Homo sapiens: one gene and its partners. The protein of the gene in region 1 purifies or fractionates together with the protein of each later gene. This does not show direct contact. Each region holds a gene or a part of one and is shown in the gene's direction. Other genes may lie near its edges. The genes, in order: PCK2, PRCC, ZMYM2, PAG1, GAP43, SLC35A1 and BPIFB1.

Region 1 (4,318 bases):
GGGCCAGCTTCCCACTGGCATTCGAGATTTTGTAGAGCACAGTGCCCGCCTGTGCCAACCAGAGGGCATCCACATCTGTGATGGAACTGAGGCTGAGAATACTGCCACACTGACCCTGCTGGAGCAGCAGGGCCTCATCCGAAAGCTCCCCAAGTACAATAACTGGTAAGCCTTGGGCTCCACAACCTGCAGGATAGGTGCACTGAGGCCACTTTGGGTTCACCAAGGCAAAATCAACTTAACTAGAACATCCCAATGGAATGAACAAGAATGAGAGCTTTGGGGTAAACAGACCCAGAAACTGGGATTTGCTTACGCCTATAATCCCAGCACTTTGAGAGGCCAAGGCGGGTGGATCACCAGGTGTCGGGAGTTTGGGACCAGCCTGACCAACATGGAGAAACCCCGTCTCTACTGAAAAAAAAAAAAAAAAATACAAAAATTAGCCCAGCATGGCAGCGCATGCCTGTAATCCCAGCTACTTGGGAGGGTGAGGCAGGAGAATCACTTAAACCCAAGAGGCGGAGGTTGCAGTGAGCCAAGATCGCGTCATTGCACTCCAGCCTGGGCAATAAGAGCGAAACTCTGTCTCAAAAAAAAAAAAGAAAGAAACTGGGATTTTTTTTTTTTTTTGAGATGGAGTCTCACTGTATCACCCAGGCTGGAGTGCAGTGGCATGATTTCAGCTCACAACAACCTCTGCCTCCGGGGAATTGTCTCAAGCAATTCTCCTGCCTCAGCCTCCGGAGTAGCTGGGATTACAAGCATGCGCCACCACACCCAGCTGATTTTTGTATTTTTAGTAGAGACAGGGTTTCACCATGTTGGCCAGGTTGGTCTCAAACTCCTAACCTCAAGTGATCCACCCACCTCAGCCTCCCAAAGTGCTGGGATTACAGGCATGAGCCACTGCGCCCAGCCTAGTTTGTAGTTTGTATTTTATTTTAATGTTAAATGAAGAAGCTGATATAAATAAGATCCTTTGCTTTTTTTTTTTTTCCTCACCAGTTCAGGGAGCTTTTGCCAGGGGCAGAGACCCCCAGAGGGCTGGGACCTTGGGGAACACCCCTTAGATGGGACAAAGCCTGGAGGAAGGGACTGAGATGTGATTGGGTGGGGAAACATAAGGCCAACAGAAGACCTGGAGTCAAAGTTGGACTTGAAAAAGTGGGTCTAGGGACAAGGGAAACCTGCTGGCCACCATCTTCCTGACAATCCCCTCTCCCCCAGCTGGCTGGCCCGCACAGACCCCAAGGATGTGGCACGAGTAGAGAGCAAGACGGTGATTGTAACTCCTTCTCAGCGGGACACGGTACCACTCCCGCCTGGTGGGGCCCGTGGGCAGCTGGGCAACTGGATGTCCCCAGCTGATTTCCAGCGAGCTGTGGATGAGAGGTTTCCAGGCTGCATGCAGGGTAACCAGGGCAGGGGCACAGTGGCAAGGGCACGGAAGATGTGAACAGGTTTGGAACCCTTCATCCAGGGGATGCCTTCCTCCACAGGCCGCACCATGTATGTGCTTCCATTCAGCATGGGTCCTGTGGGCTCCCCGCTGTCCCGCATCGGGGTGCAGCTCACTGACTCAGCCTATGTGGTGGCAAGCATGCGTATTATGACCCGACTGGGGACACCTGTGCTTCAGGCCCTGGGAGATGGTGACTTTGTCAAGTGTCTGCACTCCGTGGGCCAGCCCCTGACAGGACAAGGTAAGCACCTGCTCTGCCCCAAGGGGAACACAGAGGCCTTCTTGTACTCAGAGGAAATCCCAAATCCTACCTCTCCACAGACCCTAAGAACCTGTCCTCTCTGGCAACCTAATTCCCAAGATCCAGAGCAGCAGTCCCAGCAGAGGGATAAGGCTGTGTTTGCAGAGCACTTTGCACTAGGTTGAGAAAAATCCGTGTCCAAGAATAGGGGCATGGAAGCTGATGGTTATTATGAGGTGGGGGGCTTCAGCCACCTCTTGGTGCTGCTACTGCTCCCAAGTGTCTCTCCTGCCAATCCCTGATCCCTCTGGCCCCGACACCCCAGTTCCTGATGCTGCTGCCAGCAGCCCCATGACCCCATTGTCCCCAGGGGAGCCAGTGAGCCAGTGGCCGTGCAACCCAGAGAAAACCCTGATTGGCCACGTGCCCGACCAGCGGGAGATCATCTCCTTCGGCAGCGGCTATGGTGGCAACTCCCTGCTGGGCAAGAAGTGCTTTGCCCTACGCATCGCCTCTCGGCTGGCCCGGGATGAGGGCTGGCTGGCAGAGCACATGCTGGTGAGGGCCTGGTGAGAAGCAGGGCAGCTGCCGGGGACAGGGCAGGGGTGGGGCCTGGCCAGTCTGCCTCAGCCTCACCTCCCTCCTGCCAGGTGCCAGGCTGGTGGGCGGGGACTCTACTTGAAGGCCCAAAGCTTTGGCCTCAGGCTGCTGAATGTTGAGGTTTCCCCTGCCACTAACCCAGGCCTGATGGCAGGGCAATCACTTATATAGTTAATAAACATTGGTCCTCCCTATTAGACCCTAGCTGCCCTTCCCCATGCAGACCATGCCCTGACTTTTGGTGACCTCTTTCTTATTCCCTCTCTCCCCAATGCACAGATCCTGGGCATCACCAGCCCTGCAGGGAAGAAGCGCTATGTGGCAGCCGCCTTCCCTAGTGCCTGTGGCAAGACCAACCTGGCTATGATGCGGCCTGCACTGCCAGGCTGGAAAGTGGAGTGTGTGGGGGATGATATTGCTTGGATGAGGTTTGACAGTGAAGGTGAGGGACTCTCAGATCATACTCTTGGTTCTGGCTCTTGTCAGAGCCTCGGGGTCTCCTCTCTAGTGTTCACAATGACTTTGTCAGTGAGAAAGTTTCCTGAACACCCAACCCTGCTCCATTCCTCTGGCAGCCCAGCCACCCGAGAGACAGCCTTTCCTCATCAGATCTTGGGTCCATCTCAGGACAGGGGTGGGTGGAGCAGGACCTTCTTTGGTCTTACATCTCAAGTTTTCCTTGTTTGGTCCTTCCTTTCTTTCACTTCTCCTAACAGGTCGACTCCGGGCCATCAACCCTGAGAACGGCTTCTTTGGGGTTGCCCCTGGTACCTCTGCCACCACCAATCCCAACGCCATGGCTACAATCCAGAGTAACACTATTTTTACCAATGTGGCTGAGACCAGTGATGGTGGCGTGTACTGGGAGGGCATTGACCAGCCTCTTCCACCTGGTGTTACTGTGACCTCCTGGCTGGGCAAACCCTGGAAACCTGGTATGTGCGGTGGGGAAGGTGTGGCACAGCCTCCAGGCCTCAGCACCTTAATGGTGGAAAAGCTTTCTCCACAACCTCCAACCATCTTCTAGGACTGCCAGGAGGCACAGAAGTCATGAACGTTTGCAGTTTCCAGTCCCAGGCAAAATCTCAGTTCATGTCCCAACTCCACCAGTCACTGGTTTTGTGATCTGGCTAAGTTGCTCAACTTCCCTAAGCTTTAGTTTCCACATCAGTTGAATGAGGGTAGTTGTGATAGTACCTATCTCATGAGATTGTTGGAGGATTAAATAGTGCATAAAAAGGGTTTATCACACTGACAAATACACAGTAAATTCTCAATAATAAATACAGGCTGGATTTTTTTTTAATGAAAGGAAAAGGAAGGACTTTTGAACATTCTTACAGAAGGTATTGGGCTCCAAGCACTATCCATAAAGTTTGGCCCATTAGGAAAAGAGGAAAGCTGCCTCCTCTGCTCCAACTCTCCTCCTGCCACTTGGCTCCCACTGTCCCCTGTATAATAACCACTGTCTAAAGGTCAGTATTGTTACCGTCACCCTTCCCCTGTCCCTCCAAAGCATTCACCCCAATCCTTCCTACAAACAAAATCAGGTCAGTGCTTGAGTCTTTCCCAGAAGCTAGTTTCTGAATCCTGTCATTACCCTGGGCGCCTGGGAGTCCCACCTCTCCCTCAGCCCTGCACTCTGGACCTTCAGTATTCTTTCCATGGCCTTCTGCAGTCAGGCAGTCCAGACACCAAGAGGCAGGGGCAAAGAAGAGCATGGGAGGGGAGGCTGGCCTTGTAGTCACTGAAGCCTATATTCAGGTTTGCCAGGCTGGCCTAGCAGTCACCCTCCTTGCTTCATCTAATCACCCTTTATTTTTACTAACACCATCATTAAGCCCCCCTCAGCCTTCCCACCCAACTGAGAAATCCAAGAAACTTTCATCTTTCCCCACAGGCTAGTTCCCCAACCCTTTCATCATCTCCAGATTTGGGGGCATAACTAGGGCATCTTGTCCCCAGCTTCAATTCCCAGAATAATACCCTGTGTTAGGATTCTGCACTGGGTG
Region 2 (4,291 bases), on another chromosome or scaffold:
TTTCAGGAATTTATATTTTTCAGAAGCTTTCCTAGTGATGCTTATGCACATTAAAGTTTGAGCACAGATTGCTCTAAGGAGCCTTCATGGAGAAGGCAGCATGGAGTTTGTCTCTGAAGGGTGGAGAGGTTGGGGAGGAGGTGCCCCATATCAGGCTCGTCTGATAGAGGATTCAAGCTTGGGCCTTTCACTGTCTCTCTGCATTGTGGTCATCATTGTCCCTCCTCATCAACCTTTCCAATTTTCTCTTCAGCCTCCTCCCAAAACCTCAACAGCCTTTTCTCTGGCTTCGCTCAACAGAATTTTCTGCAATCTGGGAACAGGGAGGTGGTGCCCACACAGAGATGAATTAGCATGTAAAGGACACACACATACAGGGCAGACAAGTAGAGGGCACTCAGTCACAGGCAGACAGGAAGGGGGCAGAGATGGGTAAACAAGAAAAGGATACAAAATCACAAGCGGACAGGGAAGGACTGGCGCACAGCAGATCATCACAAGCAGACATAAATGGGCTGGACAAGGACTCCTATAAACATGGATGGAAAGGAAGGGCACTTACAGAGACAGATGTAAGAAAGTCACATACAAAGCCATAAGAAGCAGCACTCACAGACGTAAAGGAATGTAAAGGACATCTGCAAATGGATAGGTGGGAGGCACAGCCAGGTAGGACGGACTCAAGTGATTCCTCAGAACGGTCGCCCTTTACCCCACTGAGCTGAGAAGGGATTAACCTCAAGTACCTGGCCCGGATTGTCAGAGCCTTGCCCATCTTTGTCTCACTGGTTGCTGCAGAGGGAGGCCAGGCCCCAGGCTCCAGGGTAAGGTGTGTTCCTGGATGTGCACCCCGATCCTGGTGAGGGAGATCACCTCCTCCCTTTTACGTCACATTTATTTCAACTCTTAGATGCTTATTATTAGACCTGCAGCCTCGCTTCTTTCTGGCTTGCAGCCCAATTTCGTACGGGTCCCTTGGGCCCTTGCTCTTTTTGGGATGTTTTATTCTAATTCCCAGTCCCAGCCGACTGGGAAGCTTCACCAGTTCATTTACAGATCACTTTGCCTTTAAGCAATTTTCCTCAATCCGCCAGCTTCCCAGACTCCCTTTCGTTCCCGACATCACTTGCAGTTTCTAAGAGCATCATATCTCCCAGAAATCTTAGTGGCCAAGGGGCTACCCTAGGGAACTTCAAGTACCGAAATGCTCTCCTGTCCGTCTCAGTGACTGCCGTGGTGACCGGTGGGGCTTGTAGTCACCTCGGAATTGTTAGGCGACGAAAAAAACTACTCACCCCAGGTGTCCCTGCGTCAGAGGCGGGTTTCTCTCCTGTCTCCCTTTGCTCGCCCCTAAATCCTTCCTCGGACTCCAACTCCCGCCGTGCCTTGCGCTGAGATCCCTGCGGCAAAGAACCGGGCTGTGTCCAAAGTGTTCTCTGGAAGTTGTAGTTCCTGTATTGGTGAGGCAAGGAGGAGGCGGAGTGACTCGGCGGCCATTAGCTGTGTGTAGTTGCCCGGGACTAGGAGCTTAAGTGAAGAGGTACGCCTTGTTCGGTGGAAATCAGCCGTAGCCATGAGTTTCTGCCGGGGCTAGCCCTAGAGTACGGAGCAGGCGGACTTTTCGGTTCCCCGCCCCGCCAGGTGGCGGGGCCTACTAGGCCTCCGGGCATCCCCGGTCTCAAGTAGGCCTCATCTGCCGGCAAGGGCGCCCGAAACGCGGGAGGCGCCATGTCGCTGGTTGCTTACGCCAGCAGCGATGAGAGCGAGCCGGATGAGGCTGAGCCCGAGCCGGAGGAAGAGGAGGCGGTGGCTCCTACATCTGGGCCCGCTTTAGGGGGCTTGTTCGCTTCTCTCCCTGCGCCCAAGGGTCCGGCCTTGCTGCCTCCGCCCCCTCAGATGCTGGCGCCAGCCTTTCCCCCGCCGCTGTTGCTTCCCCCACCCACCGGAGACCCCAGGCTTCAGCCTCCTCCCCCCTTGCCCTTCGGCCTGGGAGGCTTCCCCCCACCTCCAGGCGTGAGCCCGGCTGAAGCGGCGGGAGTTGGGGAGGGACTGGGATTGGGGTTGCCCTCGCCCCGAGGCCCTGGCCTCAATCTGCCCCCTCCAATTGGCGGTGCCGGTCCCCCGCTGGGGCTTCCCAAGCCAAAGAAGAGGAAAGAGCCCGTGAAGATCGCGGCGCCGGAGTTGCATAAGGGAGATGTGAGTATCCGGGGAAGGCACCCCCAAACTGTCCATCGGGTTTGAGTCGGCTGTAGGAGGGACATGTGGAGATTTCAGAACTCCTTCCTACAAACGCATCCGTGGATTCAAGGCCACTGGAATCCTCTTATAATGCGATTAATTGAGCTGAAGTTGGTCAACTTGGGGGAGTTTGGGTGTTTGCCCATGTGGGTTTCCTGAAGCTGGGCTTGCCTGCAGAAGGCCACATGTCATCATCACCTGGTACTGACAGGCCTAGGGACACTTGGATCCGCTCCCCCTTCTTTGCATCTTCACTTCAGTCCGGCTTTTTCCCCTTTCCTCCTACTGAGAACAGGATGAAATCTGGCACCTGAAGAATGACAGGAGACAGGGCTCCTGAACCTTTGCCGAACATCTGGGACAAATCTTTTCCTTGCCTCTGAACTCAAAAGCATCAGGCCTGGAGGAAAATGATAGCAATCTTGGTTTCTATTTTTGAGGGGAGTTAGAGGAGAAATCGAATATTTGTTTAGTGCAGATCATTTGCCGTTCATTGGTCCTTTCTTTCAATTATTACAGAGCTCTGGGAGGTAACATACTATTGTTTTACAGATGAGAAACAGGTGTCCAGCATGCACGATTTTACCTGGTAACAGGGCAGAGTGAAGATTAAGATTAAGGTTCAGTCTCTCTGAACCTCAGATCTGTGCCTCATATTCATCATTTAGCTATGGTCAAAGCTAGGTGAGTTAGGATGCTTGGGTACTGTTTCTAGAAGAGGCAGCGAGTCTTACCTGTTTCTATATGTGACAGTGGAAAAATACAAGGCTCCTGGAGTGAGGGCTTTGGAGATAAAGGAGAGATTAAGCCTTGGAGCAGGAACTGCTTAGAATTACTTACCGGAGAGAAATTTATTGCCCTTGCTTTTCTTCAGACTCCCAGCTCTGCCTAGGAGCCATTTCCATTCGTTGAACTTGCTGTTCCTTAAATTTCTTCTCTCAGATATCCTAATGTTCTCTCCCTCACCTCACTTGGCCTAAAAGGCCTGTTTTCGGTGAGGACTTCCCTAGCCTACTATGTATTTAAATTGCAACCTCCTATCACCTCCTCCTCCCCATTGCTCTTTGTTTTATTTTTCTCCATTGCACTTAACATCATCTGTCCTCCCACTAGTATATAAACTCCATGAAGGCAGGGATTAAAAAAAAAATTCACTGCTATAACCCTAGTACTTAAAACAGTGCCTGGCACATACTGAATACTCCCATGGATATTTTGTGAGTGAAAGAACTCCAATATGGATTTTTCATGGAAGGAGTTTCCAGAGTTTCCCTCCCAATCTTGTTTGAAACTTTCTTCCTTTTTTTTTTAAATTTTTTTTATTTTTATTTTTTTTGAGACGGAGTCTCCCTCTGTAGCCCAGGCTGCAGTGCAGTGGCACGATCTCTGCTCACTGCAAGCTCCGCCTCCCGGGTTCACGCCATTCTCCTGCCTCAGCCTCTCGAGTAGCTGGGACTACAGGCGCCCGCCGCCACGCCTGGCTAATTTTTTTGTGTTTTTAGTAGAGACGGGGTTTCACCATGTTAGCCAGGATGGTCTCGATCTCCTGACCTCGTGATCCACCCGCCTCAGCCTCCCAAAGTGCTGGGATTACAGGCGTGAGCCGCAGCACCCGGCCACTTTCTTCCATTTTATTTCCCCCTTCTTTCACACCTGAGAGTCTCTCATCCTAAGTCTAGGATCCAAAAAAAAAAAGCCTTTTATTGCTCCATGGAAACTTACTTTGGCTTTGATTTAACCTGGAACAAGGAAAGATCCCTGAATGAGACAAATAAAAACAGTCTACATGGACATGGAAAGCTCATTTCTAGCTCTGTGAAGGTAGCATTATAGAAAGTTGGGAGAGGCCGTAGAATCTGCCATTTGGGTTGGCTGAGGTGGCAGAAAACTCTGAAGACTAACACTCCCTCCTTTGTAAGCATTCACTAAATTTCTGAGGTGAACAGTAACATGGCTAATTAAAGTCCTAGCCCTTGCTGGTTGAGTTTCCCATTTTTGTTCTGTTCAAGTTGGTCTTTTGGTTCTCGGAACACATAATTCCTGCAGAAAGGTA
Region 3 (3,500 bases), on another chromosome or scaffold:
CGTCAGTGGAAGATGATGATGATGTTGTTTTTATCGAACCTGTACAACCTCCCCCACCTTCTGTACCAGTGGTAGCTGATCAAAGAACCATAACATTTACATCATCAAAAAATGAAGAACTACAAGGAAATGATTCCAAAATTACTCCTTCCTCAAAAGAGTTGGCATCTCAGAAGGGAAGTGTAAGTGAGACAATTGTCATTGATGATGAAGAGGACATGGAAACAAATCAAGGGCAAGAGAAAAATTCCTCCAATTTTATTGAACGAAGACCTCCTGAGACTAAAAACAGAACCAATGATGTGGATTTCTCCACTTCCAGTTTTTCAAGAAGTAAGGTAAATGCAGGAATGGGTAATAGTGGTATCACCACAGAACCAGACTCTGAAATTCAGATTGCTAATGTTACAACTTTAGAAACAGGTGTAAGCTCTGTGAATGATGGCCAATTAGAAAATACTGACGGGCGAGATATGAACTTAATGATTACACATGTAACATCACTGCAGAATACCAACTTGGGAGATGTCTCTAACGGACTGCAGTCAAGTAATTTTGGTGTTAATATACAAACATACACCCCATCTTTAACTTCACAGACCAAGACTGGAGTAGGACCTTTTAATCCTGGTAGAATGAATGTGGCAGGAGACGTTTTTCAGAATGGAGAATCTGCAACTCATCATAATCCTGGTAAGCAGTAAGAGATACTCTACTTCATGTAAATGAATTTAAACTTTTGGCTGCTGCTTTTTTCATTGTAGTAACTGGTATTACCTTGTTTAGTTTCATCATGTGAAATATGTGAATTATATTGAATTTTATCTTAAGTTTGGTATTTTAATAAGAATTGTAAAACCATGTATAGTATTTTTCTGTGGATTACTAAAAAGTTAATCATAAAGTAGTTTTATATTTAAAGGATTTAAGAAAAAAATACTCTTTACATTCATCACCAAAGTCTGATAATTTGGCCGGGCACGGCGGCTCACACCTGTAATCCCAGCACTTTGGGAGGCCAAGGTGGGTGGATTGCTTGAGCCCAGGAGTTCGAGACCAGTCTAGGCCACATAGCGAGACGCCATCTCTAAATTTAAAAAGCAAAACAAACAAAAGAATGAAGTGTGATAATTTAATATCTTGTTTGTCATGCATTACTTTTTGCTAATAGAATTTTTACTAGTGTTTTAGTATATAAATTAGAGAACCAAAAGATTAATATAATAGCACACTTAAAGAACAGTGTAATATTGTACAGTAGTTGCATTTAGATTTTTTTTTGAGATGGAGTCTTGCTCTGTCACCCAGGCTGGAGTGCAGTGGCGCAATCTTGGCTCACTGCAATCTCCGCCTCCTGTGTTCAAGCGATTCTCCTCCCTCAGCCTTTCAAGCAGCTGGGATTATAGGCGTCCACCACCACGCATGGCTAATTTTTGTATTTTGTATGGGGTTTTATCATGTTGGCCAGGCCAGGCTGGTCTCAAACTCCTGACCTCAGGTGATCTGCCCACCTCAGCCTCCCAAAATGCTGGGATTACAGGCGTGAGTCACTGCACCTGGCCGCATTTAGATTTATTTCTACTTTCCCTGTGCTTATTTAATTTAATTAATTAGTTAATTTTTTGGGACAGGGTCTCTCTCTGTCGCCCAGAGTGGAGTAGAGTGGCACAATCTCAGCTCACTGCAACCTCGACTTCTTGAGCTCAGGTGATCCTTCCATCGCAGCCTCCAGAGTAGCTGGGACCACAGGTGTGAGCCACCATGCCTGGCTAAATTAAAAAAAAAAAAAAAAATTATTTGTAGAGACGGAGTCTTACTGTGTTGCCCAGGCTGGTCTTATACTCCTGGGCTCAAACATTCCTTCTGCCTTGGCCTCCTAAAGTACTGGGATTCTAGGTATGAGCCACCATGCCCAGCCATTTTATTTTTTATTAAGAGTTGGCTAAGGTTTTATTTTTCTCACATTTGAAGAAAGCCAAACATATCATCCTTTTTTTCTTTTCTAAAACTACTTTAAAGTTATGATTGACATGCAAAAGGCTGTATATATTTAATGTCTACAACTCGATAATGCCGTGTTTATTTTTGACCACGTATCTTTAGCTTTTAGTTAGCATTTTACTACTAAAAAATTTTTAAAAATTATTTTTATTTTTCAAGGGCATAAATAAGCAATACTTTTTTTTCTTATTTATTTGTTTATTGACAGAGTCTTGCTGTATCGCCCAGGCTGGAGTGCAGTGGTGCAATCTCGGCTGACTGCAGCCTCTGCCTCCCTAGTAGCTGGAATTATAAATGTGTGCCACCATACCCAGCTAATTTTTGTATTTTTAGTAGAGACGGGGTTTCACCATGTTGGCCAGATTGGTCTTGAACTCGTGGCCTCAAGTGATCCATCTGCCTTGGCCTCTCAAAGTTCTGGGATTACAGGTGTGAGCCACTGTACCCAGCCCCCCACCTTTTTTTTTGAAGGTTGATAGTTTTCTTGACTATTTGAAATTGTTTTCTGTGAGCAGCCTTGTTCTGTGAAAACTTTAAAATATGGAAGTGATAAGAACTCTGTGCCAGCCTGGACAACGTGGTGAAAAAATACAAAATACTGAAAATATGAAAAGTTAGCTAGGCATAGTGGTGCACACCTGTGGTCCCAGCTACTTGGGGGGCTGAGGTGGGAGGATTCCTTGAGCCCCATAGGCAGAGGTTGCAGTGAGCCAGGATTGCACCACTGTATTCCAGCCTGGGTGACAAAGTGAGACCCTGTCTCAAAAACAAAACAAACTCTGTGACTTTTTCATGACATGTCTGTGGATGTCTCTCTCTCTCTTTAACCTCTCCCCCAATTCCTCTGTGTGTGTGTGTCTATCGGCGTTTCTCTCTCACATGCCTCTCTCTGACCCATTCTGTCATCATTTTAGGCTCATTATCCTAGGGATTGTGGAGAATAATGTGAAGTAACTAAAATCTAGGCAATGTAGAATGCTATATGAATTGCTAGTTATTTTTCTTATTTGTCGAGTAATGTCTGATTATTGAAGACTGCTTAGAAAATCTATAATTTAAAACAAGAGCTGGTGCCAAGCATGGTGGCTCATGCCTGTCATCCCAGCACTTTGGGAGACCAAGGCAGGAGGATCACTTGAGCTCAGGAGTTTCAGACCAGCCTCTGGGCAACAGAGCAAGACCTTGTCTCTACTAAAGATAAAAAAAAAACTAGCCAGGGCTGGTTGCGGTGGCTCAAGCCTGTAATCTCAGCATTTTGGGAGGTCAAGGTGGACGGATCATCTGAGGTCAGGAGTTTGAGACCAGCCTGGCCAACATGGTGAAACCCCATCTCAACTAAAATACAAAAATTAGTGGGGCATGGTGGTGCATGCCAGCTGCTCGGGAGGCTGAGGCACGATAATTTGTTGAACCTGGGAGGCGGAGGTTGCAGTGAGCAGAGATTGCACCACTGCACTCCAGCCTGGGCGACAGACTGAGACTCTGTCTCAAAAAACAAA
Region 4 (4,318 bases), on another chromosome or scaffold:
GTCTTCTAGTCCTGGAAACAAAACATGTACATGAACAAAATCCCTGCCCTGTGGAACTTACATCTTAGTGGGAAGAGACAGACATAAAGTTTAAAGTTTATAAGAGAAAAAAATAGAACCGAATAAGGGGAACTGAGAAAACAGGTGGGGAGTACAGTTTTGGATAGAGTGGTCAGGGTCTGCCCAGCTATGAAGGTGACGTTTGAGTTAAAGGATCCAAGGGGGTGAGGTTTGTGCTTTTGTGGAAAGAGCACGTGAAGCAGAGGGGATGCCCAGTGTGAGGCCCCTGAAGCTAGAGCTTGCAACTGGCTTTTTAAGGGAAGAGGAGGGGACTGCTGTGGGTGGAGAGGGAAGAGCAAGGACAGCAGTGAGGAGAAAGAGAACCAGAGCTCGATCCTGGATGGCCTTGGCTTATAGTCTGAACACTAATAATGTCACTAGAGTCCCGAGCAGCAGAATGGCACAACCTAGCCTATGTTTTCAAAGGATCCCTCTGACTCCAGTTTTGAAATAAAGGGTAGAAGTGAGGAGAACAATTGGGTAGTGACTCTAATAAACCAGATTAGAAATGGCGGTGGCCTGGATCAGGGAAGAGGCAGCAGAGGTGATGAGAAAAGCTAAGCCAGAGCCAAGAGATTTGCGGATGGATCCTACGCTTAGTGAGATAAAGAAGAGGCAGTGATGAGTACGAGGCTGGGCCCAACATGTGGGAAAGATTGAATTGCCATTAACTGAAATGAAGAGGATACAGGCAGAGCAGGTTTTGGGGGGAGAACCAGCAGTCAGTGTTGGGTACGTTCAACTTGAGATACCGATTGGACTTCCAAGTAGAGCTTATCAGATGGTAGCTGGATTGATGAGCCGGGTAAAGAGGAAAGGCCAGGGCTGGATTTGCTGATGTGGGAGTCATCCACAGAATGTGGTTTTAAAAGTCATGAGATTGGGTGAGGTCACAGGATAGGTGAGTGTAAATAGAGCCTGGAAGAGCTCCAAGAATAGAGATCTGGAAAAGGAACCAGCAGAAGAGACCAAAGTAGGAAACAAAAACAGGAAAGTTGTGGAGTCCTGGAAGGCAGTGAAGAACGTGTCCAGGAAGGAAGGAGTGGCGGGCCGCTCTGCCAAATGCAGCGGGTAGGTCAGGGAAGGCGAGTCTCATTGGTGCCCTTGACAAGAGCAGTCTCTGTGGAATGGTAGAGGCAGAAACATGACTGAAATGGATTAGAAAGAGAATAGGAAGAGAAAAATTGTTCGGTTGACTTTTTAGACCACTCTTTAAAAGATTTTGCTATAAAGAAGTGAGACAGGCTGGGCGCAGTGACTCATGCCTGTAATCGTAACACTTTGGGAGGCCGAGGTGGGTGGATCACTTGAAACCAGGTGTTTGAAACCAGCCTGGGCAATGTAGCAGCACCCCGTCTCTACAAAAAATACAAAAATTAACTGGGCATGGTGGTATGCACCTGTAGTCCCAGCTACTTGGGAGGCTGAGGTGGGACAATGGCTTGAGCCTGGGAGGTCAAGGCTGCAGTGAGCCAAGATCACGCCACTGCATCCCAGCCTGAATGGCAGAGTGAGACGCTGTCAAAAAAAAAAAAAAAAAAAAAAAGGAAGTGAGATAATGAGTAGGTAGAATTTCGGAGTAGGACTAGGTTTGTTTTGGTTTTAGAATGAGAGAAACAACAGCATGTTTGCATGTGGCTGGGAATGATCCCACACTGGGAGAATTCCTGGCTCAGTATTCACACATAGGTATGTGGAGACAGGGTCTAGTGTGTAGGAAGGAGGGGATCACCTGAAGGAGGAACATGGAAAATCCATTTGACAGGGAGGAAAGAAAATAGATTAACGCAGAGGCTGAGGGTGGGGCTAAGAGTTGATACAAATTTCTTCTGATTCCTTCAGTTTTCTTAGCCAACTAGGAAGCAAGATCATCTGCTCAGAGTGAAGATAGGTGAGGAGGTGTTGGAAGTCTGGGGAGAAGAGGAGAAGATGCAAAGTAGACTGTGAGTTGAGCAGAGACTGAGTATACTGGGGAAGCATCGGATGATACGGAGCGGCTTTAAGGGCTCACTAGAGGGTTGAGTTCACGTATGATTGGCAGTTGACTATGGAGCTTAAGCTTAGTAAAGCAGTACAGGACACCAAGGAGAAGGGCAGACTTTGAAAGCATGAATGGGTCCCAATGGTGTTGAAGGAGCATTGGAACTGGGTTACAGAAGGAGTGAGCTTTGACAACGAGCGCTGGTCTGAAAGGGGTTGCAAGGACTTGGGCTGGTGGAGAGGCTGTGGTTTAGAAAGGCCTGGGGTGCAGCCATGAGGGTGCTGAGGCCGGGGGTGGACATGGAGAGGGGACACAGATAGAGCATAAAATCAGTGGGGGAAGGGAAAGTCAAGGAACTGAAGGGCGGGATTTAGAAGGGTACACGTTTGTTGAGGTCACCAAAAATTAAGACAAGGGATGTGTTAGAGAATCAGTAAACCAAGAGCCAAAATCCTTCAGAAATCAGGCAGGGGGCAAGACACAAAATGTGAGTCAGTTTCTCCATTAGCTTTGAAGTTTCCAAATGACTTAAGGATCTTTCTGATGACGCCAGCAAACTGTAGAAGTATAAAATTCAGGCATTTGATAAAGAAACACCATGTTTTTAAATATTAATCCTCCATGGATGATCAATCCTTCAGTGACAATTAGGAATTGAAACAGTAGTCTAAATAATTATTTTGGCTTCTTTGTACCTACAGATGCAAATACAAAATTAGAGGAAATTTCTCTAAGGATAATACTACTAGATATCCCCGAACATCATACATGTGGTAATAGATTGCATAAGTGTTTCTCTTCCCATAATTTCTTCGTGGTTCCATAAAAATCATTTGAAAACGTTGCTAGACAGATTATGAGGAAACATGTGCAAAAGAAAGGTTAGATTGTTAACGCTGAATTACTTTCCTTGGCTTGTGTTTGTTCTGACAGAGATTTAGCTCATTGTCATACAAGTCTCGGGAAGAAGACCCCACTCTCACAGAAGAAGAGGTAAGTTTTGTTTCTTTTTAAAAAGGGAAAACTGTAGTAAAGAATAGACCTTCCCCCCTTGAATAAATGCACTGTAATGTTACCCTTTGAAAGAGCTGAAATATTCTCCTATGCCTATGTTTGGAGATGAAGACTTGGGATGCTGGTTTTATAATGGCTTGGAGAGACTGACGGGCAGGCCAGACAAGAAGGATGGCAGGACAAGTAGTCAGCTCAGGAAAAGAAACTGAGCAGGAAAGCAGGGTCAGGAAAAATAGAGAGGGCAGGGGAGAAGAGTGAGAAGAGAAAAATTCCAGCGTGGGAGCAGTCAGCAGTCAGGAAGACCACATCAGAAGGAAATGAATCATGGGTTGGAAAATTCAGGAAATTAGAACAGGTGAGTGTAGGGAATTTGCTCCAGCCTGGGAGACAGAAAGAGGAAGTCTCCGTGGGGAAATTTGGATGCTGAGAGCAGATTAACTTCAGTAAGTACAGTTCCAGGCAGGAGCTAGGGTCAGACATAGCAGCCAACAAGAGCAGATCGCATATTCCCAAGCACCAGGGTGCAAAATTCACGAGTTAGATTTTCAATGAAGCATTAAAATTGTTAAAGCCAGTATTATACATATAATATGAAATATGTGTATATATACATATTTCATATGTATATATATAAATGTTGAGCTATGCTCAGAGAGCTAAACACCTTAATTGATCTAGCTGTATATAGCTTCTATCTGGAATTCCTAGCAGAGTAAATTGTGTACATGTACAAGAGCAAAGTACATATGCAGGTACATCACTTCCTATAGGACTCTGAGTAAAGCATTAGAATATGGACATAGACACCCACGTTGAATGTTCAAAGAGCAAAAATGCTTTCCCTAGGTGATATTGCCCACCCTCGTCCATGTTTCTACCTCCAGAATGGACCTGCCATCTGTCTATCTGGTTGCACAGACCAAAACCTAGGGGTCATCTCGATACTTCCTTTTCCTCACTGTCCTCCAACACAGTCAATTGCCAAGACCCATCAGTTGCACCTCCAAACTGTTTTCTTTGTGTACCCACCTCCCTCAAGCCCACTGCGGCCGCCCCTCCCTAGGCCAGAGCAGTCCCCTCCTGCTGATCCCTGGCAGCTCCTTGGCCTCCCTCCACTCTGTTTTCTACTCTGCAGCCAAAGTGATCCCATCTGGGACAAGAAGGTAAAATATATAGGAGTTCTGGGAATTAAAGACTATGTAAAATTTTAAATTGCTCCTTATCTTACATTTGTTTGTATTTTTTGAAACAGGACCTAGTTAT
Region 5 (4,987 bases), on another chromosome or scaffold:
CACTCTTTGTCCTCTTTTATCACTTAAAATCACGGAAGGCTGTTCTGAAAGCGGCTGGGCTCCTTGTAACATTAAAAAATTATTAAACTCAGAAACTAATTCTGTTTTTTAATCATAAATATGAAAACTAGGAAGCAAACTGAGAAGAATGAAAGACCAAATCAGCGGATCTGAAGCAGGCCACTCTCAGGAAGACTCCTGAGGAATAATTAAGGCTAATTTTAAATATCACCTCCTGGGTATCATCATCACCATCGTTCCCAGGTACCTGTCTGAGATAGTCCATTTTGAAATAGATATACCTTAAATTATGTTAAAATGTACTAAGCACTTATTGAGCTCAGTGATCCTGAAATATGCCTAACAATAAGCTGCCTAGTTGCCACTTATTAGCTAGGTTTATGTCTAGGAGGTCTAGGAGGGACTATGAAGAATATGAGCTGTTTAATTAGGGGTACTTGTCATCACTAATGAACAACAAGAAATAGTTTGAAAACTTCTTTGAGATATTCACTTGCAAATGTCACCCGAATTTCAGAAAAGTACAGTCTCTGGAGTAAAGCTATTATACACTCAGAGAGACTGTTGTGCTTTGCATGCGTTATATCATTTAGTCCTCAAAACATGTTGTCAAGATTGGCATTATTATCTCCATTTTAAAGATGAGAAAATTAGGTGCAAAGAGCTTCAGTAACACACTCAAACTCATTCAACAATAAATAACTAAAAATTGTGCTATACACACTTTAAGAGTCACATGTTCCTCCCCCAAAATTATGAAAGGCCATAGAAGGAATTCAAGAAGTAGGCTTCATGACTTATCGTTTCTTCTCATCTCAGATGAATTCACTTTAATCTCTCATGCCCAAATTGTAAAATATCATTTTGATCACCGTCAATATTACACAGACCTGTTTGAATGTGCTCAGCTTTTTCAGTAAAATTAGAAGAAACCACAATTTACAAACAGGTATATGTGCATTAAGGAAAAAACAAAAAACTACCATGTGATTTTAGATATGGATGCCAATTCTTAAACATTGTTTATTATTTCTGAGCTCAAGTGCTTAGAATGTTTAAAATGCAATATATTTATGTGGATTTTTTTCCAGGATATTGGAACATATATAAAATATGCTTGTGCATATCTAAGCTTTGTATTTATTTCAGGTTATATGTATACTGAGAAGAATATATAAACAGTGTATGATATTTACATGTTATTTCATTTTTTGAGGGAAATTAACCTCCACAATTATTAACTATGCATAAAATGTAATGGCAGATATGACTTATATTGTATAGGACTGACTACAATTCCTCTTTAGAAATAGCTGTTCTTTGCTTTTATAATACTAGGAAAAGAGGAAAAGAGTTCTTAAAGAAATACAAGGATTCCTCAAGCCCCTCTTCCCTAAAACATGCTCTATCATATCTCCTGGATTGACTGGAATATCCTTCTCTGCCCCCACCCCATCACCCTCTCAATGCAGTGGAAAAGTCGGTGGGTAATTGGGTCCAGATTGGAGGTGTTTAAATATTCATGAGGCTGGCAGGGGACTGGGAGGGGGCGACTGTCTAGAATGGGGGTAGGGGCTGGGGGAAGTGATTAGTCACTGAAGGCTAGAGAACAATTCCGAGAAAGAGACGGAGAGAGAGGGAAGAAAAAGACAGATAGATAGATATTGGGGGGAAGGAGAAAAAAGGAGAAGAGAGGGAAGAGAGGACAGCGGAGAGAGAGCACCAGAGAGAGAGGGAGAGAGAGAGAGAGCGCTAGAGAGAGGGAGCGAGCATGTGCGATGAGCAATAGCTGTGGACCTTACAGTTGCTGCTAACTGCCCTGGTGTGTGTGAGGGAGAGAGAGGGAGGGAGGGAGAGAGAGCGCGCTAGCGCGAGAGAGCGAGTGAGCAAGCGAGCAGAAAAGAGGTGGAGAGGGGGGGAATAAGAAAGAGAGAGAAGGAAAGGAGAGAAGGCAGGAAGAAGGCAAGGGACGAGACAACCATGCTGTGCTGTATGAGAAGAACCAAACAGGTAGAGCTAAAGATTTTTTACTTCTTGCTGTTGTGAAATAACCCGAGTACAGTATTTCCCCGTAAAGGCAAACAATTTTTTTACTGCTTCTGCTCTGGCCGTGGTGCTCGCGCTTCCTTAGCATATGGTAACTGATGGTTGCATCCCAGCTTTTATTCTTTTCTGTCTTTCATGCTCTGGTTTTGGAATGCTGCTACTAATTAGGGTGAGGGTAGAAAAAACATGCCTGTTTGGCTAGAAATAATTTTTTTTTTTCTTATTAGTGAATGCTCAGCATTTGAGGTCTCTGGTCTTGAGGGTGTGGACGTAGAAAGGGGTGTGGGGGAGATGATGTGGGCTCTACCTACAAGATGGGGAGGCATTTCTTTATATTATTTGCAAAAAAGCAGGGTTGAGGAAATAATATTCAGAACTGAGTATTGCCTCTCTGTCATACAATTTTCTCACATGTGCTGCGGAAGATGCCTTATTTCGTGCATGCATGAGCTTCGAAGGGGCGCAGGTATTTATGGAAAAACGTGCAGGTCTTATTTATTTAGTATTTATTTTTCAATGAATGAATGAAACTGTGATTTGATAGATTTTTTTTTTTTTTAAGAGAAGCTAAGACAACTGGGGCTGGGGGAGAAATTGGCCATGCAGAAGGAGAAAATCCCCTTCCTAAGATCAGCAGCCGATTGTGCACCAGCTGGTCGGAGGAGAGGGTGGACCACGCCCCTAGGAGCTCCGATGGGATGGGAAAGACAGCCGGGTATTACCTGTTGGAAACCAGGTCTTTTCTCTTATCCCCTTCCCTTGCTTCTTTCCTGGGATTGTCAGTGACCAGAGACAGGCTAACATCCTGGATAATAAGTATGGTGACTCATTTTCATCAGGAAGAGGGACACATCCAAGATTAGCAAGAATCAGAGCCCCTCCTTCCCTCCCCCACTGCCCAGGTTTTACAGCCATTTCCAATTGCTCGCTTATTTCTTGAAAGACATTTTAGAAACTTGATTGGGGTGAGAGTGGGAAGGAATGACGAGTGTGGTATTCCGCAGCAACCGACCATGCCATGGCAGTCTCCAAAAGAAGCTTTCAAACATTTGTTGGAATGCATTTGAGTGATTTTGGCAAAGGTTAAAGAGAAAAATGGGTGTGGGATACGGGTGAGTGTGTGCGTATGCTTGACTGTGGTGGGGGTGGGGGTGTGGTGGGGGCAATCTTGGTCAAAGAAGCCCTTCGCAGACTGATTGCCTTAGGGGTGGGGTGCAAGAGATGGAATTTGGGTATAATTTCCAGTGCAGGTATTGGAAATTGGGCAATTTGTAATACACTCCCTGAATCCGAAGGGGGTGGAAGAGAGTGGAGAAGAAACAGCCTGCCAGCTTAGCACATTTAGCCAGCGCCCTGGAAGGAAGGGTGGGGAGTGAGGATGAAGGAGAAGGAGCAGGAAGAGGATGGGAGACTGAAGCAGAATGTCAGAGCAGTGGGAGTAGAGATTTGGCATAAATAAATAAATAAATAAATAAGCAGACATCCTGGATTGTGTGGGGCTATTTGGGGGAAAAAGTCGGATAGTGGGGGATTGAGTTGGGGGCGGTATTTGCAGCATCTCCTGAAACTGCCCTATGGTTACAGAGATTGATGCTTCCATTGGCTCATTTTATCAAACCAGGGCATTTTCTCTCTGTGTCCTCCTTCATTTTAATATATAAATGTAATAAATACAGGTGTCTGGGTTAAGAACACTGTCAAAGAAAAGTCCTGAGGTTATTTCACTGGTGAGCTGGGGAAATAACATTTAGGAAGGTGGAGCACTAAGTAAGCCAAAGCCATCCACTTAAAAAGCTTTAATTTTGGAAAGAAAAATATTCAGGTTCATAATTTGTTCCCACCCTATGTGTACATATGCAAGTATACATACATCTCCTTTAATAAAGGAAATCATGTATGATTTTTAGAAAAGGAATTAGGGCTAAAGGAATTCCCTTCCCAAAATGAAGACAGCTGCCTTCCCTGGGGCTCTATCTCACCAACAGCCCCAAGCATTCACTCTGATGTGCAAAGTGATGAAGCTGAAATTGTGTTTAGAGTTGTAGAAATTCGCATGTAAATGTATACAGCATCCACATACTTCATATGCTACAGTTGCATGTGTAAGTGGTTTCCACATGCCTCTCTGTGTTTTAGCATCATTTATATTCAAGAGAAAATTAAAGGTATAGAAATTGTCCTACTTTGCTCATGCATTTTATAAATGTGTACTTCTGTGTGAAATGGTCATGTCTCTTATAAACCACTGTTGTGTATCATTCACATTAGCCAGTATTTAGGATACCATTCAATCAGACTAAAGGAAATGGTGTATTCAGGGCGTGGGCTCACACTACACTGACTGGCATTTATGTAGCATGAGTACTTAAGTCTCACGCAGGTTGCCTGCTTGTGGATGAAATTCTGTATCATTTATGACAAAATCCAGTGGTGCCCATCCTTCTGCTGGCATCTATTCATCATCGTAGTACTTAACAGGGAATAAAACAAGGGCAAAAACCTGCAAAGGTCTAAGCTCTGCCACACCCATAAAATCCAGCAGAAACGTGGGAGGGGGGCTGAAGGGCTTGCACTTCCTTCCTCTTCCACTTGAGCGGCATAAAGAAGCAACCTTGGATTTCTAAGTTGGAATACATTGCCAGTGGGTGAGAAGAAAGCATAAATGATCTCTATTAGCCATTAGTTATCACTATAGATTATTATAGCAGGAAGAAGAGAATGAGAGTGGGGTAGAGATGAGAATATGGTAAAGGAGTGGGCAAAGGAGGAATAAAATAAAATAATCCCTAATATTGTATTGCCTTATGATTTTCAAATATCTTGGGGCTTACTTTAAATAGCTTAATTGCCATGTGTATTGCAGATGATTAAAAACTTGGCAAGGTGTGATTTATGTCTACAAAGCAAGAAAACTATGAGG
Region 6 (4,318 bases), on another chromosome or scaffold:
CCGGGGCGACACAACAAGACTCCATCTCAAAAATAAATATAAAAATAAAAATGGATATGCAAACTGATCAATTAAAAAGTAATCAGGGTGAACTTGATGAAATAGTTAAAGTAGCAGGGGATGAATTTTTTTATAGGTAATATCAACAGTTTTCCTAATCTCATTATTCAATATACTCAGAATCTCTCAGAGCTTTGACTAGAGATAGTGGTAAATCTAGTTGTTGTCATATTTTCCCAAACAGAACTATAATTTTTTAAAGAGGATACATTATTGGTATGTTTCTTTTAATCTAAAACTAGTTAGAAATTATTAGTTTGCTAAATTACAGCAAGCATAGTATGCTTGTCCTGTGTTTGAAGAAGTCTTATTAAAATAATACTCTTTAATTTTCTTCCTTACCACCCTCTCATCTCCCCCTTTTGTTTTCAAAGAGAAACTGGTAGTCTGGGTAGATTCAAAGCATCTTTAAGAGAAAATGTCTTGGGGAGCCCCAAGGAACTGTTGAAGTTAAGTGTGCCATCGTTAGTGTATGCTGTTCAGAACAACATGGCTTTCCTAGCTCTTAGCAATCTGGATGCAGCAGTGTACCAGGTAAGTGGAGTTAATGATAATGAAAAGCACAGAATCTTTTATGGTAAAAAGAGTTTTTATTAACTCTTTATCATATTATCAATTTTTTTTTTTTTTTTGAGATGGAGTCTCGCTCTTTCGTCTAGGCTGGAGTGCAGTGACGTGATCTCAGCTCACTGCAATCTCCGCCGCCCAGGTTCAAGCGATTCTCCTGCCTCAGCCTCCCGCGTAGCTGGGACTATAGGCACATGCCACCACACCCAGCTAATTTTTTGTATTTTTAGTAGAGATGAGGTTTCACTATGTTGGCCATGATGGTCTTGATCTCCAGACCTCGTGATCCACCACCCGCCTCGGCCTCCCAAAGTTCTGGGATTACAGGTGTGAGCCACCGTGCCCGGCCATTATCAAATATTTTTTATTGATAATTTTATCAATGATACCAGAAATAATATATTTGTATCAGAGACTAACATTAACTGAATTTATTAATTCATTCTCTTTTTTTTAGGTGACCTACCAGTTGAAGATTCCGTGTACTGCTTTATGCACTGTTTTAATGTTAAACCGGACACTCAGCAAATTACAGTGGGTTTCAGTTTTTATGCTGTGTGCTGGAGTTACGCTTGTACAGTGGAAACCAGCCCAAGCTACAAAAGTGGTGGTAAGAAACAAAATGCACACCATAACTTCCCATAAATAGAAAACTTCCTTAAGTCTTATACTGTTCAGTTACATTGATGCATGCAGCATGACTACATTTCTTTGATTTAAAATAACTTTTGCCTTATAGATAGGCCTTTTTTCTTTAGCATATTATTAGGGATAATAATACTTATTGGTTGTTTCTCAGAGGAGAATATGCATAAAATATGTTACAGATGGAACATACCTTAGAAATAATGTGTTCCATCCCCTCCATTTTATGGATGACAGTCCCCAAAGAGGTGAAGGAACTTGTCCTAAATTAGTTAATAGCTAACTTGTGACCACAACTGTGCCAGTTTCCATACTGTATATGTTTAGAACTTCTAGACCTCTTTCAAACATCTCAGAAACACTGGGCAAGGTTTTTCTGCATCTAGTTTTCATCTTCTCTCTCAACTGTCAGTCTCTGGCACATCTCCCTACTGTCAGTGATCAGGATGACAAGGGAAGGAGTGTTCTTACTGATAATTGATAATTATCTTTAGTTTTTAAGAGTTAATGTGAAGGTACATAACAGATTTTTAAAGAGTTAACGCTAAGATACATACATGATTTTTTTTCTTACATTGTATGCCTCAATCAGTTATTTCCCCAAAGAGAAACAGGAAATGGGATGCCAGTGAATAGTTTTGTGAAGGTCAGGAGTTTCCTACAGTTGAATATTTACTCTAACTTTTAGCAAACAGACTATGGTTCTCTTAGGAATGGAAGGCGGCTGGGATGTACAGTGCTTGTGAACAGTATCATATCCCCACCCTCCAGGTCCCCTCCTTCCCCAATTAAAACCCTACTGTTTCTTTCTATAATATGGTTTCTAGACAGACTTCCTGATCCCTGCCTTCTGCCCCTACACTTTTCCTTATATTTTTCTCCTAGATGCATTCATCTGTCATTATTTCTCAATATATCCTAAAACCCCACTGTCTCCCAATGTTGTCTAAGTAATACGAGGCACAGTTTGGTAATTACCCCTTTGTTCTGAATACCGGAGACTTGTTATACAGTCATGCATCGCTTAACAAAGAATGTAAGTTCAGGGTTCTGAGAGATGCATCATTAGGTGATTTCACTGTTGTGCAAACATCATGGAGTATACTTACACAAATCTAGATGGTATAGACTACTTACTACACATCTAGGCTGTACAGTATATAGCCTATTGTTCCTAGGCTACAAACTTCTGCAGCATGTTACTGTGCTGAATACTGTAGCGAGTTGTAACACAGTGGTAAGTTTAGCGTACCTAAACATAGAAAAGGCACAAATATAGTTTTATCTTACAGGACCGCTGTTTTATATGTGGTTCATCATGGACTGAAATGTCATTATGTGGTACATGACTGTTAATTTCTGGGGGGCAGGCAAAGTATCTATTTTACAATTGATCATAAACCACTACATGTAACTGTGTCACCCAAATAGTTTGTCTCAAATGTATCTTGTATCCCTCTCACCCCACTGTTCCCTCAATCTGTCTGCACTGCCATGCACTCCTCCACTACTGGTTAAGTGGGTTCCAAGTGTCAGGACTGGAATAGACTCTCATTGACACTAGAACTCAAACTCTGGCTTATTCTAAACCAGAATGCAGGTTGAGTTTGTATTTATTAAGCTCTTCTTGTTAGCTTTGGGTCATTGCTCAGCCCCTTGAGTTATTTCCAGTTCTTACCCATTATTAGCTTCTCCTTTGGGTATTACGCTTTCCAGAGTCAAAAAAAATATGCCTTCTGGGTCTTTAATGAAAATTTTAGGTAGAACAGGACCAGAGTTCTGTGGCTGTACCTTTAGAATTCTCTCTAGCTTGATCTTTTTCTTGCTTACTGAACATATCATCTCTCATAGTTTTTATGGGTCAGGAATTTGAGGGTGCCTTAGCTAGCTGGTTCTGGCTTGAGGTTGCAGTCAAGATACTGGCTAGGGCTGCAGTCAACTGAAGACTTGACTACGGCTGGAGGATCTGTTTCTAACGTGGCTTATCTATATGCCTGGCAAGTTGGTATTGGTTGATGGCCTAGCTTGATTTTGTTCAATTAACTACCATTTTTCTGTATGAGCATTCACACACTTACGGATTGTACCTTTATCCTCACTACAGTTCTGTGTTGTCTATAAAAATATTATGTGGCTGGTCGCAGATCACCAGGTGAGGAGTTCGAGACCAGCCTGGCTAACATGGTGAAACCCCGTCTGTACTAAAAATACAAAAACTTAGCTGGGCGTGGTGGCAGGCGCCTGTAATCCTAGCTACTCAGGAGGCTGAGGCAGGAGAATCGCTTGAACCTGGGAGGCAGAGGTTGCAGTGAGCCGAGATCGCGCCACTGCACACCAGCTCGAGTGATAGTGCGAGACTCTGTTTCAATAATAATAATAATAACAATAATATGCAAGTCTGTCACATTTTTTGCCAAACATTATCTCTATGGAATTCCCCTCATCACTTAACATTAGGAGTCCTTTCAGTAAGGAAATCTGGTATGTTTCACACTTGGTGAAGTCACACTATTTTCCACTGATGACCATTAAGCTTTTTAAGTACAAGTCATCTCTAAATCTGTTCTAACATTTTGCTGGTAATCAATGTAACAATAACAGCTGCAATCATTTATAATGCACTAAATACTAGCATTATCTAAATGCTTTATATACACTAACTCACCTACTTTTCTTGATAGTCTTTTAAATTTATTTAGCTAGGTAGTCTAGGCGGGGAGAATTGCTTGAGCCCAGGAGTTCAAGACCAGCCTGGGTAATATAGTGAGACCATGTCTCTACAAAAAAATTTAAAACTTAGCTAGATGTGGTGATGCATGCCTGTAGTCCCAGCTACTTGGGAAGCTGAGGTGGGAGGATCACTTGAGCCGAGGAGGTTGAGGCTGTAGTGAACCATGATTATACCACAAGATCCTGTCTCAAAAAGAAAAAAAAAAAAAAAAGCTTTCTTTAATGCCTTACAGGATTTTTTGCAAGCCTCCACTTATTCTGAGTTTTCGATTTCTTGATACTATTCTTAAATTCCTGGTTAGATTCCTCTTGGTGA
Region 7 (4,318 bases), on another chromosome or scaffold:
GCCCATTCTTGAGCCAATCAGTGTGTCCAGAAAAATGGAATATGAAAACTTCCTGAGCTGGGCCACCTACACACTAGGGTAAGGGAGTGAGGGCTCTATGAATAGTGGCTGCTTTCGTCGTCGTCATCGTCATCATTATCATTCCCCACAGCAAGCCTAGACTGTCATCTGTTAAATGGGGAGTGGAGGCAAGTACTATCTCATTTAACAGATGAGGCAGGTGAGGCCCAGAGAGGTCAAACCCTTTGCCAAGGTCCCAGAGCCAGGAACTGAGATTCAGACCCCAGAGCCTCCCTGCATAACCCCTAATTCCACACTCGGATCCTCTTGAGAACAATGGGGCCTGGGCTTCTCTTGTTGCAGGAAGCCAGCTCGGAAGCTCAGTTTTACACCAAAGGTGACCAACTTATACTCAACTTGAATAACATCAGGTAAACACACAAATCATCATGAAGATTCTGCTGATGGAAATGAGTCCCGCCTGGTAACCATGGGTTTCTTTAAACACCGACTTTGTGGCTGTCAGGTGAAGGCGGCTCCAGGGTAGGCAGGGAGGTCCTTCCGGATGCTCCTGCTGACAAGGACTGCATGTGAGGGAATGGGGAGGAAAATGAAGTAGGCCTTGCAGCAGCCACGGCACAGGCAAACCCTAGCCGCGGCCAGCCCACTCTGGACACCTCCCAGGCCGTGGCAGTGACAGTCACCCGGCACAGAAGTGCAGGGCTCCAGCTGCCTCCTGCACCCTGCCTGTTCTCCCTCCCCGCCACTTTCCTGTGGCCCCAGAGTGAGTGCAGGGGCTGCCAGCTGGAGCCTCTGGGGACAAGTCAGGCCCAGGGCTCTTTTGATCAGCCCACATAGGGCTGGGCTGTTTAATATAAATGAGTTGTGCACATATCAAATCAGACTATCTGGCTGCCCTGTGCCCACAATCCTACATAGCAACAAACTGTCGAGCCAGGAATTGGGGCGCCCTTTGAAGGAGCTTGGGCCTCCTTGTCCACCACAGCCCTGACTCCTGAGGTTGATTTTTCTGCTCACTGGACTGCTATTTGTTTTCTGTGCCCCCTCTATGCCCCCCACCCCACCCCTGCCATTAGAATGCAAGCTCCACGACGCAAGGGCTTCATGTGGTTCACTGGAGCCCGCACTGTGCCTGGCACATAATAGGTGCTCAATAAATCGCTGTTGAATGAGTGGATGGTGAATGAGTGGGACTTCAGGGGCCGCTCTCACAGGCATCTTCCATTGCAGCTCTGATCGGATCCAGCTGATGAACTCTGGGATTGGCTGGTTCCAAGTAAGTGTTAACAGGTGGTGCCTGAGGGCACAGGGGGTGGCCTGGAATGGTCCACTCTCAAAACAGATATTGCCCAGGATTTGCTTCAAACAAGGTCCCCACAGAAGCACCATGGGGGGCTGGCCGGTCTCCACCAAAGTCCAACTTCCCTCGAGTGTTTACAGAGAAGCCACCACGTGTCAGACACAGCTGAGAACACACACACGCACACACAAATACACTCACAGATACACACTTTCTTTCAGTGAAGTTTTGATCCTGAATTAGAACACAAGTGCCCTTGACTCACAATCTCATTCTGCACACGTAGACGCGCCTCAGTGCCCCTAGACAGCCCTTTCCTGCTGGGATTCAGACCGAACCCCAATACCTCAGTCTGGCGTGTTTTCTCTGGTTTTTATGATTTGTTTTTCACTATTTTTGACTTTTTTTTTTTTTTTTTTTGAGATGGAGTCTCGCTCTGTCGCCCAGGCTGGAGAGCAGTGGTGTGATCTTGGCTCACTGCAACCTCCATCTCCCGGGTTCAAGCAATTCTCCTGCCTCAGCCTCCTGAGTAGCTGGGACTACAGGCGCCCACCACCACGCCCGGCTAATTTTTTGTACTTTTAGTAGAGACAGGGTTTCACCATGTTAGCCAAGATGGTCTCGATCTCCTGACCTCATGATCTGCCCGCCTTGGCCTCCCAAAGTGCTGGGATTACAGGCATGAGCCACCATGCCCGGTGACTAATATTTTAAAACACGGAGAGTTCCACATGCAAATCAGGACTTCTGGCTTCCCTCCAGAAGTCAGAAGTTCAGGCAATGCAGGGCAAAATTCCCTCAGGGCAAATTCAGCTGCAACAGAGTGGTGGGGCCCCTGAGGATGGGGCATCCTCCAATGCACCCCAATCCCCCCATCTACCAGGCCCCAGGGGCGGCTGAGTTCATGCCCCAACCCAGCCCATCTGGTCCCTGGGAGCCCCCACAGCTCTGATCAGCAGGGGACCTGGAATTCCTACATCTCCACCAGCCACCTCACCCATGGGGAGGAGCCACACCCACGAAGAATGATGGGGGGGAACTTCAGATGCTCAACCAGGGTGACAGTGCCCCTTCTCTCTCTCACAGCCTGATGTTCTGAAAAACATCATCACTGAGATCATCCACTCCATCCTGCTGCCGAACCAGAATGGTGCATACCTCTGCCATCTGTGCCCCCTCTCTCCCCAGGGCTTGGCTTTACTTCCCCTGCCCTCATCTCCATGAATGGGGCCCCTTTCATTCATCTCCCAGCCATCCCTCAGAGCCTACTTCAAAATCTGCCTCCTCCCAAGAACCTTCTCAGCCCAATTCCTTTGCTAGTGCCAGAGGCTGGGCTCGTAAAGATGAACCAAGCAGTGGGCCAGACTTGCAGGGCTGGAAGGAGACAGAGGCATAAGCAGACAATGAGAGCAATGACAGAGGTGTAAGAGACAACTGGAGGCGCCTCAGCAGACCCTGTTCCCCCTCTTGCTAGTGCCTGGCCTTGGTCAAGCTGCACAATCCTTCTGAGCCTCAGTTTCTCCATCTGTAAAATGGGGACGTAGAAGTACCTTCTTCAGAGGCACAAATCAGGAGGTGCCTGGCACAGTCAGTGCCCAACACTCTAATTCAGCCCCAGGTTGAATGAGGGGTGGGAAGGGTTTGTAACCTATACAGTTCCACCTTTTTAATTTCTTTATTTTATTAGACTGGAAAAATCTCAAAGTATAGAAACCTCTGCTGGGGATAATGGGAGCCCCTGATGGTTCTTGAGCAAGAGCGTAAGAGAATGTGAGGACTGCATTTTGTGAGGGGCCAGAAGCCAGTGCCAGAGGCAAAGGGAGGGTAGACGAGGCTGGGTCAATGCTGGGGCCAGAGAACAGGCGAGCAGAGGCAGAGGGGGCTGTCTGATCAGGCCTGCCAGGCCGGGGCTCCCCTTCAGGAACCCTGAGCCTGCCCCTGGCTGCCCAGTCTCACCCCAGGCCCATCAGTTTCTGACCACATTTGTTATTTCAGGCAAATTAAGATCTGGGGTCCCAGTGTCATTGGTGAAGGCCTTGGGATTCGAGGCAGCTGAGTCCTCACTGACCAAGGTGAGTGGGTGTGGCCCTAAACATCCTGCCCCAGGGAGGGCACAGCCACTGAGAGCCCTGGCTGGGAGGTGGGGCCTGCACTCCAACCCCAGCCTACAGGTGACCCTGGGCAAGTCCCTTCCCCTCTCAGGGCCTCACCTCCTCATCTGCAAGTGAGAAGGTTGGCTGTGCTGAGGATGGAACCCTCCTAGCCTGGGGTCAGTACACTTTTTCCACCCCCTTGTCATTCATTCATTCATTCATTCATTCAGTAATTCACTAAATATTTTTCGAGGGTCTTCTATAGGCAAGCCATGCTTCTGAGTGCTTGAGGCCACCGAAATGAACAAATGGAAAACACTCCCATCTTTTTCAAGCCTACCTTTTAGCAGAAGAGGCAGATACACAAGCCCTAAAGATGTAACATCAGGCTGAGTGGAGGAAGGCTGAGAAGAAAAATAAAGCAGGCTCAGGAGGAGAGAGTGATGTCAGGGAAGGGGGTGCTGTTTCAGATGGGGTGGCCAGGGAGGGCCTCTCTGAGGAGGTAACATTTGAGCCAATGCCTGAGGAGGTGAGGGGTGAGCCCTGTGGGTAGCTGGGAGAAGTGTCCCGTCAGAGGGACAGCGTATTAGGCCGTTCTCACACTGCTATAAAGAAATACCTGAGGCTGGGCTCAGTGGCTTGTGCCTATAATCCCAGCACTTTGGGAGGCCAAGGTGGGCAGATCACCTGAGGTCAAGAGTTCGAGACCAGCCTGGCCGACATGGCAAAACCCAGTCTCTACTAAAAATACAAAAATTAGCTGGGCGTGATGGCGGGTACCTGTAATCCCAGCTACTCGGAAGGCTGAGGCAGAAGAATTGCTTGAACCCAGGAGGCGGAGGTTGCAGTGACCTGAGATCACGCCATTGCACTCCAGCCTGGGCAACAAGAGTGAAATCCATCC

What was found.
Region 2: the proteins of PCK2 (region 1) and PRCC purify together in Homo sapiens (affinity purification with mass spectrometry; one large-scale study listed by BioGRID and IntAct). This does not show direct contact.
Region 3: the proteins of PCK2 (region 1) and ZMYM2 purify together in Homo sapiens (affinity purification with mass spectrometry; 2 studies listed by BioGRID and IntAct, with this or other methods). This does not show direct contact.
Region 4: the proteins of PCK2 (region 1) and PAG1 purify together in Homo sapiens (affinity purification with mass spectrometry; one large-scale study listed by BioGRID and IntAct). This does not show direct contact.
Region 5: the proteins of PCK2 (region 1) and GAP43 purify together in Homo sapiens (affinity purification with mass spectrometry; 2 studies listed by BioGRID and IntAct, with this or other methods). This does not show direct contact.
Region 6: the proteins of PCK2 (region 1) and SLC35A1 fractionate together in Homo sapiens (co-fractionation; one large-scale study listed by BioGRID). This does not show direct contact.
Region 7: the proteins of PCK2 (region 1) and BPIFB1 purify together in Homo sapiens (affinity purification with mass spectrometry; 2 studies listed by BioGRID and IntAct, with this or other methods). This does not show direct contact.

Annotation. Positions count from the first base shown.
Region 1 is NC_000014.9:24,096,973-24,101,290, forward strand, and holds part of PCK2 (phosphoenolpyruvate carboxykinase [GTP], mitochondrial isoform 1 precursor), read left to right. Parts: coding exon 1-165; intron 166-1,230; coding exon 1,231-1,415; intron 1,416-1,502; coding exon 1,503-1,706; intron 1,707-2,076; coding exon 2,077-2,264; intron 2,265-2,585; coding exon 2,586-2,748; intron 2,749-3,022; coding exon 3,023-3,241; coding exon of another isoform or gene 3,242-3,333; exon of another isoform or gene 3,334-3,781; intron 3,782-4,318. UniProt on the Homo sapiens protein: Mitochondrial phosphoenolpyruvate carboxykinase that catalyzes the conversion of oxaloacetate (OAA) to phosphoenolpyruvate (PEP), the rate-limiting step in the metabolic pathway that produces glucose from lactate and other precursors derived from the citric acid cycle.
Region 2 is NC_000001.11:156,766,044-156,770,334, forward strand, and holds the start of PRCC (proline-rich protein PRCC), read left to right. Parts: upstream 1-1,491; 5' UTR 1,492-1,728; coding exon 1,729-2,196; intron 2,197-4,291. UniProt on the Homo sapiens protein: May regulate cell cycle progression through interaction with MAD2L2.
Region 3 is NC_000013.11:19,993,227-19,996,726, forward strand, and holds part of ZMYM2 (zinc finger MYM-type protein 2), read left to right. Parts: coding exon 1-693; intron 694-3,500. UniProt on the Homo sapiens protein: Involved in the negative regulation of transcription.
Region 4 is NC_000008.11:80,979,151-80,983,468, reverse strand, and holds part of PAG1 (phosphoprotein associated with glycosphingolipid-enriched microdomains 1), read left to right. Parts: intron 1-2,974; coding exon 2,975-3,034; intron 3,035-4,318. UniProt on the Homo sapiens protein: Negatively regulates TCR (T-cell antigen receptor)-mediated signaling in T-cells and FCER1 (high affinity immunoglobulin epsilon receptor)-mediated signaling in mast cells.
Region 5 is NC_000003.12:115,621,689-115,626,675, forward strand, and holds the start of GAP43 (neuromodulin), read left to right. Parts: upstream 1-1,821; 5' UTR 1,822-2,001; coding exon 2,002-2,031; intron 2,032-4,987. UniProt on the Homo sapiens protein: This protein is associated with nerve growth. It is a major component of the motile 'growth cones' that form the tips of elongating axons. Plays a role in axonal and dendritic filopodia induction.
Region 6 is NC_000006.12:87,500,074-87,504,391, forward strand, and holds part of SLC35A1 (CMP-sialic acid transporter), read left to right. Parts: intron 1-434; coding exon 435-594; intron 595-1,084; coding exon 1,085-1,237; intron 1,238-4,318. UniProt on the Homo sapiens protein: Transports CMP-sialic acid from the cytosol into the Golgi apparatus, functioning as an antiporter that exchanges CMP-sialic acid for CMP. Binds both CMP-sialic acid and free CMP, but has higher affinity for free CMP.
Region 7 is NC_000020.11:33,303,595-33,307,912, forward strand, and holds part of BPIFB1 (BPI fold-containing family B member 1 precursor), read left to right. Parts: intron 1-363; coding exon 364-431; intron 432-1,251; coding exon 1,252-1,297; intron 1,298-2,407; coding exon 2,408-2,471; intron 2,472-3,316; coding exon 3,317-3,393; intron 3,394-4,318. UniProt on the Homo sapiens protein: May play a role in innate immunity in mouth, nose and lungs. Binds bacterial lipopolysaccharide (LPS) and modulates the cellular responses to LPS.